Linked DNA regions of Homo sapiens: region 1 is linked to region 2. The links come from fine-mapping of genetic effects on gene expression. A gene starts in region 2. The other region holds a variant in brackets. All regions are shown on one strand. Distances are from middle to middle. Region 1 overlaps LOC105376082 (a long non-coding RNA gene). Region 2 holds the start of ALDH1A1 (aldehyde dehydrogenase 1 family member A1).

The links. PIP is the estimated chance that this variant, and not a neighbour inherited with it, causes the effect.
Region 1: its variant is the best candidate, but not a certain one, in a credible set for the expression of ALDH1A1 in whole blood (TOPMed, PIP 0.61).

Annotation. Positions count from the first base shown.
Region 1 is chr9:73,246,705-73,252,099 of GRCh38, reverse strand. LOC105376082 (a long non-coding RNA gene) reads left to right here. Exons shown (of 5, transcript XR_929931.2): 2 at 4,291-4,423. Among named protein-coding and RNA genes, the nearest start is that of ANXA1, 98 kb to the right of the region's middle. The variant A/T (reference allele first, on the strand shown) is at 2,949.
Region 2 is chr9:72,950,975-72,956,369 of GRCh38, reverse strand. It overlaps ALDH1A1 (aldehyde dehydrogenase 1 family member A1), which reads left to right and starts at 3,317. Exons shown (of 13, transcript NM_000689.5): 1 at 3,317-3,435. The coding sequence starts at 3,370.

The DNA.
Region 1 (5,395 bases), 300 kb before region 2:
TTTACTTTCAACAGCTTATATTGTTGTATTTCAAGTTAATTTCTTATGGGCAACATTTAGTTAGGTTGTATTTGTAAATACCCTCTGTTAATCTCTGTCTTTTGATTGCTATGTTTATACCATTTAAATTTAATATAATTACTGATACCTTAGAGTTAAATCAGCTATTTTATTTTTGTTTTCTGTTTGTTCTCTCTGCTTTTCATTTATGTCTTCTTTTTCCTCCCTTTCTGTGGAAACCCACAACACATATAAAACATATAAATCATCATATAAAACATTTTTTACAATTTCCCTTTTCTTTATCTATAGTGTTTTGACTGTGTCTCTTTGTATAGCTGTCTTAGTGGTTGCACTAGTTATTATGTTGTTACATATCTGTAACTTACCACAGTCTACTCGTGTTCTCATTTTACCAGTCCTAGTGAAGTATAGAAAGATTACTTCCCTTTACATCTCTTTATTCTCCCCCATTTATAATTGTCTTAGATATTTCTTCTACAAATATTTAGAACAACATTGGTGTTTTAATTTTTGCTTCAACCATCAAGCATAATTTAGAACACTCAAGAGAAGAGCCTATTGTATTTACCCATATTTTTTGTTTACTGTATTGGTCTTTCTTCCTGATGTCACAAGCTTTATTCTTTTGTTATTTCCTATACTTTTAGAAATTTTATTTAGCCATTCCTGTAGGGTAAATCTCCTGGCAACATATTTTCTTATGTTTCCTTCATCTAGGAATGTGTTGATTTCTCCTTCATTTCTGAAGGATATTTTCTCAAGATATAGAATCTCAATTTTTATTTTTTATGTTGGGATGCCTGTGTTTATATTATTGAGTTTTAAGAGTTCTTTTTATATGCTGGTTACACATCCTCTGTCAGGTATAAGTATATCAAATATTTTCTCATAATCTATGACTTGCTTTTTAAAACAGTCTTACTGGTGATTTTTTGAAGAACAAAGTATTTTGCTTTTGATAAAGTGCTTTTTTTTTATTATTTGGGCTTTCTGTTCAAGGCTAATATATTATTACCACTCTAAGCCCATGAAGATTTTTTTCTCGAATATTTTAAACTTTCCTTTAGGTTTAGATATCATATACCTCATGTATATGAGATGTTTTTTTTAGTGTATGAGTCAAATTGAGGTTGAGGTTCTATATTTTCTTTATTCCTATCTACTTGATTCATCACCATTTGCTAAAGTTGTTTCCCTTTTTCTGTTGAATTGTTTTAGAGCCCATGACAAAAAATAATTTGACTTTGTATGTGTGAGTCTATATCAGGATCCACAATTGTTTTCAATTGATCTATTCATCTATCATATTGCTAGTGTCATACTCTTGATTTCCATAGCTGTATAGTATGTATGGCAGTCAGGTAGGGTAAGTCCTCCAACTGTTCTAAGACATTTTCATTTTGATATATATTTGAACACAGCAAATTGCCTTTTTTTAAAGCCAAATATAATTTTGGTTAGGATTGTGTTGAATATAAAGATAGATTTGTGGCGAATTTACATTTTAATAACTTTAACAATACTGAGCCTTATAATCCATAAATATAGCATCTCTTTTATTTTCTTTCCAATTGCTTATTGTTGTTGGTTAGAAATACAATTTATCTTTGTATATTTTCTTTGCATCCTGTGACATTGCAAAGTTCACTTTTTTATTCTTTATGACTTTTTTTTTACAAAAAACAATAGAAAACAATTTTAATTATGCACATATACATGGAGTCCCACAAAGACATGAGCTCCCTCCTTATAACTTTCTAGGCATATGTTATATTATCTTCAAATAGAGATTTTATTATTTATTCTTTTCTAAATGTATGCCTTTTTTTTTTTTTTTTTACTTACTACATTAAGAGCTCCAGTACAATGTTGACTAGAAGTGGTAGAAATGCACATCTTTATCTTTTCCTTATTTTGGGATATAATGCTCATTCCTTCTTCATGAGTAAAATATATTTAATGTTGATTTCTCACAGACTTTATTTGCCTAGAAGAAAAAAGTTCTCTTTTGTCCCCAGTTTGTGGAGCGTTTTTATTATGAACAGGTGCTGAATTTTTAAGTGCTTTTCCAGAATCTACTTAATTAAATATAATTTTTCTTCTTTAATGTGTTAATGTGTGAGTTCCACTGTGATTTCCATATAATAAACCAACTTGCCATTCCTGGGATTGCCACTGCCACATGGTCAGGATTATTTAACATCTCTAGATATTGCCAAATCCAATTTGACAATGTTTGGTTATGGGCTTTTGTGTCTATGCTCACAATGAATATTAGTCTTTAATTTTCTTTGCATATAATATCCTTTCCTAGATTTGGTGTCAGAGTTATATTGGCCTCATGAAATGACTTGGAAAGTATCTTCATTCCACTATTCCATGAAAGAGTTTGTGTGATATTGGCAATTTTAGTTTATTAAATGTTTGATAAAATTTCTGATGAGCTACTTTGGATATGAATATTTTTATGGGAATTTATTTAATTACAAATTCTATTTAATCAATAGATGTAAGGCTACTTAAAATTTCTATGTTTGTGGTGAAAGAACATACTGTTTATGATGGTCCCCCATTTATTTCATTAAAAGGTAATTTATGTTCCTTGAAATTTACAATTTTAAGTGTAAAATTTTGGAATTTGACAAACTTCTGTAGTCATATAAACACCATCAAAATCAAGATACAGAGCAAGGGTCATCAAACTATGACTGTGGGCCAAATATTGTCTAAGGGCTGTTTTTGTATGGTCACTCAGCTAAGAATTTTTTTATTTTAATAAAGGGTTGTGAAATAAAAACAAATAAACAAAAGCAAGCAAGAGTATGTAATACAAACTTATATGGCCCTAAAAATATTTATTATCATGTCCGTTACAAGGAAATGTCAGCTGCCACTATAAATTTTTAGCCTTGTGATTGCTTTGA[A/T]GCTCAAGAAATGAATTTTTAAATGCTACATATATGCTATAGTTTAAGAGTCAAAATTCATTTGTTCTACATCGTTCTTGTGAGGAGTAAAAAGAATAACTGCCTCCTGGGCTTATAAAGTGTTTCCCAGGAAAGCAGGAAGTTAGGATGGAGAGTTTTTGGTTTTTCAGTCAACTAAGATGGGATTAAATCATTTACTGAGTATGTTTCTTTAGACAAATTGTTTTACCTCTCTGTGCCTTATCTTCTTTGTCAGTATAATAGAAACAAAAATTCCAAACTAAATAGGTTGTTTTGAGATTTAGATGAGATAATATATACAAAGATGTACCTCAATGAAACCTATTTGTCAGATGTTTGCAATTCCCTCTCTACTTCATCACAACTACTAAACAAGGAGTTTACACACACACAGACACACACACACACACACACACATCGTTTTGTAAAAAGGGAGCTGGTGGTTTGAGTTTTTTGTTAGTTTGCTTGTTGAGATGTTTGTTTGCTTTGTTGCCCAGGCCTAGTGCAGTGGTGCCATCTCATTGCAACCTCCTCCTCCTGGGCTCGAGTAATCCTCCCACCTCAGCCTCTAGAGTAGCTGGATCTACAGGCACATGCCACCACACCCGGCAAATTTTTTGTGTCTTCTCTAGAGATGGGGTTTCACCATGTTGCCCAGGCTGGTCTCAAACTCCTGGGCTCAAGGGATCTGCCCACCTCGGCCTCCCAAAGTGCTGGGATTACAGGTGTGAGCCTGCCACCACACCGAGCCTGCTGGTTTTAATGCACAGCTCTACCCTGTGAAACTGGAAATGTATGGCTTTGTGCCAAATTTTCTAATTTGCACAAAAAATATATGTTTAGCTTTTCAGAAACTCTGTCAGGATTCATTAGCTTTCTGCAGAAAAATAGACCTTTGGAGACTAAAAGAAAAGAAAAATAAAGTTTTATGAGACAATCTATTAGTCAAGGTATTGGAGAAAACAGAGAAGATTTTGGAATTATCTTTAGCTGTCATTTACATTTTCCTGAGCCTTAAATCTGAGTTTCTCTAATAATCATAAGCCCGATATATTTTGTTTTAAAAATAAAACAAGAAAAAACTCAAATTATACCAAATCTGTGCTCACAGCCAGGATATATCCTTTTGGACTATAGTCTGTTTTAACTCACTGATGCAGAATGTTTTGGCACAGGAAATATTTAATCTAAAAAGTAGGGCCTTTCACAAGAACGCCTCTTGTAAACAGGGAGACCAACTGGGCATTAATGTGAATATTGTTGTTGGCAAGATCTTTTGACCTGATGGATAGAGGTGACATATACATTCTGTGTCTTTCAGCAGGAACACCCCTTGGAGCAATAACACCCAAATACCTGAAATGTGAAGATGACAAGCATGAGTATCCTCTCCTTTTGTGCCTGAATTTCCTGCTTTAATCAGAAAAAAATACTTTTAAAAAGTGCAGGCAATGGTGAGGTTAATTTCTTGTTTAAAATATTTTAATTATCACACTGCAATGATGGAAATAAATCTGTTCACTCTAGCAAGTATATAACATTATCACAAAAAGCCAAAGGAAAAGGAAATGCGTAAGAGAGAAAGGGGATGAGAGAGAAGCAGGACACAAAAATTACAGTGCAGGGAACAAGAGCAAAACGAAAAAATACCACACTAGCAGTTAAACTGACCCCAGAGGTAGATATTCACATTCACTCTGAGTTAACTGTTTTCTGTCTTCAGAGTTCACAGTGCAAGATCATGCTAAAAGACTAACCAAGAAGGAGTGGAGGGAAGATTTGAAGTCCAGGTGACTTGAGACCAAGTTCTGATTGGAGAACTTAGGTGTCCGTAGCCAAGTTATTTAAACTTTTCTGCTCCTCAGTTCCAACTTTCTCAAAATGAGTAGATAACGATTACTGTATCTCACCTGAATATTATGAAAAGTCTGTACGATAAAATATGATGATGGTTATACAATGATAATGTAAACTTCTTAATAATACAAATGTTAGTAACTGTTATTTACATGTATTCAATAGTCAACTTTGGAGTAATCACCCTATTGATTCAGCACACACTGAATTCCACAACAAAGCAAATTATTTACACTCTGCATGCCCTAATTTTTAAATAAAATATTGTGGGTTTTTGTATTATTACAACTTTTCACAATAAAATTTCTGCTTCACATAATTTATTGATCAAAGTTCTAACTCACCTGCAATTCAGCATATTCTTCTATCCCTTGCTAACTCCTAGAGTTTGACATATTTTACAGGATTAATTCTTCTCATAGGAATACTACAAAAGAGCTACCTAATAAGATGTTTTAAAAATTCTAATTTGAAGCTAAATAGATAAAGTTTTAAGAATATCAGCTTTGTGAATTTTCTTATGGGTTTAAAAGTATAATTTCATGCCAAAGTTTGGTCAATGGAACAAT
Region 2 (5,395 bases):
CAGATTGCCAATGTCTCATTGCATCCACACATGGCAGAAACAGCGAGAGATCTCTCTGGAGTCCCTTTTATAAAAGCACTGATCCATTCATGAGGGTCCTACCCTCATAACCTCATTACCTCCTAATATGATTTGGCTCTGTGTTCCCACCCAAATCTCACCTTGAATTGTAGTTCCCATAATCCCCACATGTCATGGGAGGGATCCGGTGGGATGTACTTTAATCATGGAGGGGGGTTACCGTCATCCTGTTCTCATGATAATAAGTGAATTCTCATGAGATCTGATGGTTTTATAAGGGGGTTTTCCCCCTTTTGCTGAGCACTTCTCCTTGCTGCCACCATGTGAAGAAGGACGTGTTTGCTTCCCCTTCCACTGTGATTGTAAGTTTCCTAAGGCCTCCCCAGCCATGCTGAACTGTGAGTCAATTAAACCTCTTTCCTTTATAAATTACCCAGTCTCAAGTATGTCTTTATTAGTAGCATGGGAATGGACTAATACACCTCCCAAAGGCTCCATCTCCTAATACCATCACATGGGGGGTTAGGATTTCAACATATCCATTGTGACTGGACAAAAAAAATTCAGTCCATTGCAGAAGCTATTTTTAATTCATCATATGACTTTTTTCAACATTTTTTTAAAAATTTTAAGTCCTGGGTGGCAGATTAGGTTCCTTTTATCTTTTCAGGAACTGAGGATTGGACGGAGTTCTGGAGATGTTTGTTGTAAAATGAAAGAGTAGTTTCAAGAATGGTTGAAGTCATAATCTATATGTTTCTTGGTATAATGAAAGCTTTCACAAATGGCTGGAGAAGTCAAATTCAAGAGATGAATAAACTATCCTCTTATGTTTCTTGCTTCTCTCTCCATATGTGTGTGTGCCTGTGTGTGTGTGTGTGTGTGATTTAGTTTGTTCATAAGGAGGAAAAAGAAGATGAAACATCATTTGTCGATTACTCTCAAGTTAAAGGGACAGCTCCTCCTCTGCTGCATAGTCCTGGCATACCATAAAAACGTACAATCCTGGGTCCAGTTCTAAAATGTGCAACCTTGGTCCCTAGGTTCTCACAAAAGCCATTATTTCCTCTGTAAGGAATAGAAGTAGTCTGATGAAATCTTTTCCTCATATGCAGCAATTCCCAGAAATATGCTATTCTACAAAATAAGCTCTCAGGGCAGGATGATGTTTACCTCAAAAATATAGGTCTCAGGCCCTGTGGTTTCTAGGCAGAAAAGATCTGCTTAAGTGAGGTTAGGGCTAAAGAATTATGGATGCATAAATGATACTTAGTAAATATTTGCTGAAATTAAATGGGCAGGTGTGGTAACCTGTCTCCAAAGCAACTCCTTTTGCCTACATTCAGGAATGCCTGGTATAAAGGGACTGTTCTTACATAATTATCCAATAAAATACAATTGAGAATGATCATATAAGAAGTGAGATGACAAGCCAAGTATGTTATGAAGCCTTGAGCTTTCATCGCCTGGACATCAAATAAACCAGTATTTGAATCCACAAACAACTGTGACTCTGGGAGAAGAAAGCAGCAAAACACAGCTGTTTGGGCATGGCCAGAGCGCCACTCTCAAGTTATGTAACAGCTGTTGTGTAATTGTGCATTTAACTCAAAACACATTTTTGAGAGAGAAAACAATTAGACTTTCCAAAAAGAAAGAAACAGAGAAATGTTGAAAGAACACAGAAGTTTCTATCTGGTCATCAAACATAAGACACGGGGGAGTCAAAGGCATTGGGAATGATATTGCCTTAGAATCTAGGGAGTTGGCCCGTGCACCAAATCTGGCCTGCCTTCTGTCTTTTTAAATAAAGTTCTATAGGAAAACAACTACACCCATTAATTTACCTATCATCTACAGTTTCTTTTAAATAGAGTCAAGTAAATTATATCAGAAACCATCCAGCCCAGAGGCTGAAAATATTTACAGAAAAAGTTTTGCAAATTCTTGTCTTAGATGAATAAAAAGTTATGTTTAAATGCCTGTAAGGGTGACTATTCACTGAGAAAACCAAAGCAGTTGATGCTTGAACCCATGTAGGAGTTCTCTTGTGGAGAATAGGGTAGAAATAGTAAACAGAAATAAGAGTCCAGGTTTGGGAGTCAGACTGGCCTGAAATGAAATTCTGGTCCTGCACTAATAGATCTGTGACCATAAGTAAGCTACTCACCCTCTGTATGTCTCTAAAATGGGGATATGAAATGAGGGTAGAAAGGGAAACAAGTGCTGCACCTGATTTGGGCAAACAATTCAGAAATTTTTAGTTTCCCTATGTAAGTCCCATATTCAGGGGAATTGGCAAGTTTCACTAGAAAAAAAAAAATTGGTTGATTCTCCACAATCAGAGCATCCAGAGTATTTTATCTTGTTCCTATTGTAACGTTTGCTAGAGCTACAATACAATAAAGTATTGTACTTAAAATGGGAGTAACACTGTTTAAAAAATTGTCCTTCAGCTAAATATTAATTTAAGAACTTGAATTGTTTGGAAGCCCTGCTTAAATTTAGTCTTTGTACACTGCCTATGTTGATAAATACAGACAACTTCCAAAACCAGGATTACTTTCATTTTAAATGAGTATTAATAGATGATATTGCCATATTTCTAATTGTGGTGATTGTGTGTGACAGTGTGTTCCGAATTCCCTAAAAGTCCTGCTGGCTTTTCTGTTCACATATAGAAAATAAAGATAATTTAGGGCTTCTGAGATCACAGTAGGTCTACTTACCCAGCACTGAAAATACACAAGACTGATACGATATTTTAAAACTAACTTAGGGTAGGGTGTAGATAAAGGGCCTTTCTTCCCCAAACAGCACCTTGATTTTCTGGGAGATGGACTGATTTCCTGAAAGCCTTGTCCTGAAGACACCTGGCCAGCTTCTACTGAGAACAAGTGCCCTTTTAGACTCTTTTCAATCCTCAAATTCTCTGATTCCAAGTCTGTCAGAGAACAGAAAGTTACATAGTAGCATTAAAAAGCATGAGAAGTCAAAAAAATAATAACTGGCCTTAGTGGCCAGAGCAGCTGCTGCATACACTTATCACAGGTTTCGGCTTTGTAAATTAATTCATCTGCAAATAGTGCACTGTCTCCAGGTACAAATTCGATGCTGGAGCACTGGTTTCTTAAGGATTTAAGTTTAAAGTCAAAGGCTTCCTGCCCTAGGTGTTACAAATAAGTAGTGTCGTTTTCTTTTTTTGCTCTGAGTTTGTTCATCCAATCGTATCCGAGTATGCAAATAAACTTTAGCCCGTGCAGATAAAAAAGGAACAAATAAAGCCAAGTGCTCTATCAGAACCAAATTGCTGAGCCAGTCACCTGTGTTCCAGGAGCCGAATCAGAAATGTCATCCTCAGGCACGCCAGACTTACCTGTCCTACTCACCGATTTGAAGATTCAATATACTAAGGTGAGTAAAACTTCTATTTTCTGCTTTGACTCGGGTTTGCAAAAACTGCATTTATGTAAAGCATTAAAGGTCAATTTAAGTAAACTTGTGTAAAGAGCCCTTTGCAAATATAAAAATAAAAGGCATGCAAAATGCAGGTCTCAGTTTAGTGTCCTGATCAAATATGATCTAAATCATATCAGACAATCTTTCATAAATTTATTTCTTAAAATATTTCCAAGCGAAAGGAATTCTCTTCTGTGTGAAAGGATTCTTATACCAGGATTCAGAGGACTTTACTAAGCACTTCTATTAACTTCACTATAGCCGGCATGTATGATAAGAGAGCAAAATACTCACTAGAGAAGCTTACTGGAAAGAACCAAACGAGTAGGAACAATAGAAAGCAAACAAGGAGAAAGAGAGCATACTGAAATAACATAACTTTCCAATATGTTTAATAAAATGAGTGTTAAAATAGGGGGACTTAAGTCTGATAATTGGATTCGAAAATCTTCAGATGGACTTGCATTATTTTGCATATTTTGGTGGGAGGAAGAAAAGCATTATTTCTTCAGCCAAGTTTGTTGCCATTGGAGCAGATGTGTAATTGTTAACTGATAAATATTTAGAGAAACAAGAGCAGGAGCTAGATCCAGACTTTAAAATCCGCAGCTGGGGGGAACTAGGAAATGGATCCTGCTTGAGTCGTTCTGAGAGTAACTCTGAACTTTGCCTGTTTCACACTGCTTTCCTGTCAGATCCTAGAACTCCAAAACAAACAAATGAATAAAACACAATCTAACCAAAATTACTTGAAGTTATCTTTATGGTGTGATGCAGAAAGTATGGTAAGAAATTAACTCTTGCAAATCAAGAGAGAGCCATTTTGCTGTCTGAATTAGCCAACAGAAAAACAAAGGGCATTATAATTTAATGATAAAGTAAAAGTCCCCACTGTTATATATTTATTTCCTCACTTGTAACCATGGATGGCTTTGAAATCCCAAGGTCTGTTGCATTTTCATTTTCATAAAGCACAACAAATGAGGAAGTTGCTCAGCTGATTGGCTCTTTTCCTCAGGAAAGTAGCAGCAGAGATCAGATTGTGCCTTTAACATGGTTGACCAGCAGCTATGAAGTGTATTTTAAGGTATTGTTATCACGAGGTTTTGTTAAAGAGGAAAGATTTTTTCCATTTAGTTTTACTACAAATGGTAGCATGAAAAATGCAGTAAATCCATACCGTCAAACAATTTACATTTGGCAAAGGTATGTCCAAAAGGTTGCAAGAGTCCAGTCTCCCTCATTTTCTTATTCCAAGTTTGTCATTCACAAGAAATTTCAATTGAAAGTGGGTACATTTAAAAATACATTTCATGAAGCTCAAAATTGTCGACAATGCTCAGATTATTGTATTACTATTATTAATGGGATTTTTTTTTTAATAATACTACCTAGGAAGATATTTTGGTAGTCTGGATGCCCCTGTCTCCCCACTCCTTTGGCTTTGCAGAAGTTTGCAAAGTCTTCCTTGTGTGTGTATTTCAAGGAAGCTCTAATGTAAATAACCTTCCTGCTAAATTAAGCTTCACTTAGTAGTCATTAACTAAGCATGTAAGAAGCGGTACTAGACAAATGAGATGGTCCTAAAAATCTAACATACAAGCACAGACCTAATGAACCCTTAACACAGAGAGATGATTTTGAGATTGAAACCTATTCACTTCGAAGTCACTGTGCAACAACTCCCCTCTAGGGAAAGTGACTGACCTAAGTGTCCAAAAGAAGGCAAGACTCAAAGAGCAGGCGTTTTGCTCTGTGTTTAAGAACTTTTCTGGGTAAAAATACTCCAAACAAGTCAGTGAATTTTGATTTCTCGTGCATCTTCTATATAAATCTGTTCTGCTCAGATAGCATTTTATTGTTTAATTTATTGGTTACAGCGTTTTCACACTTGGGAGGACGCCAGTTATGTATG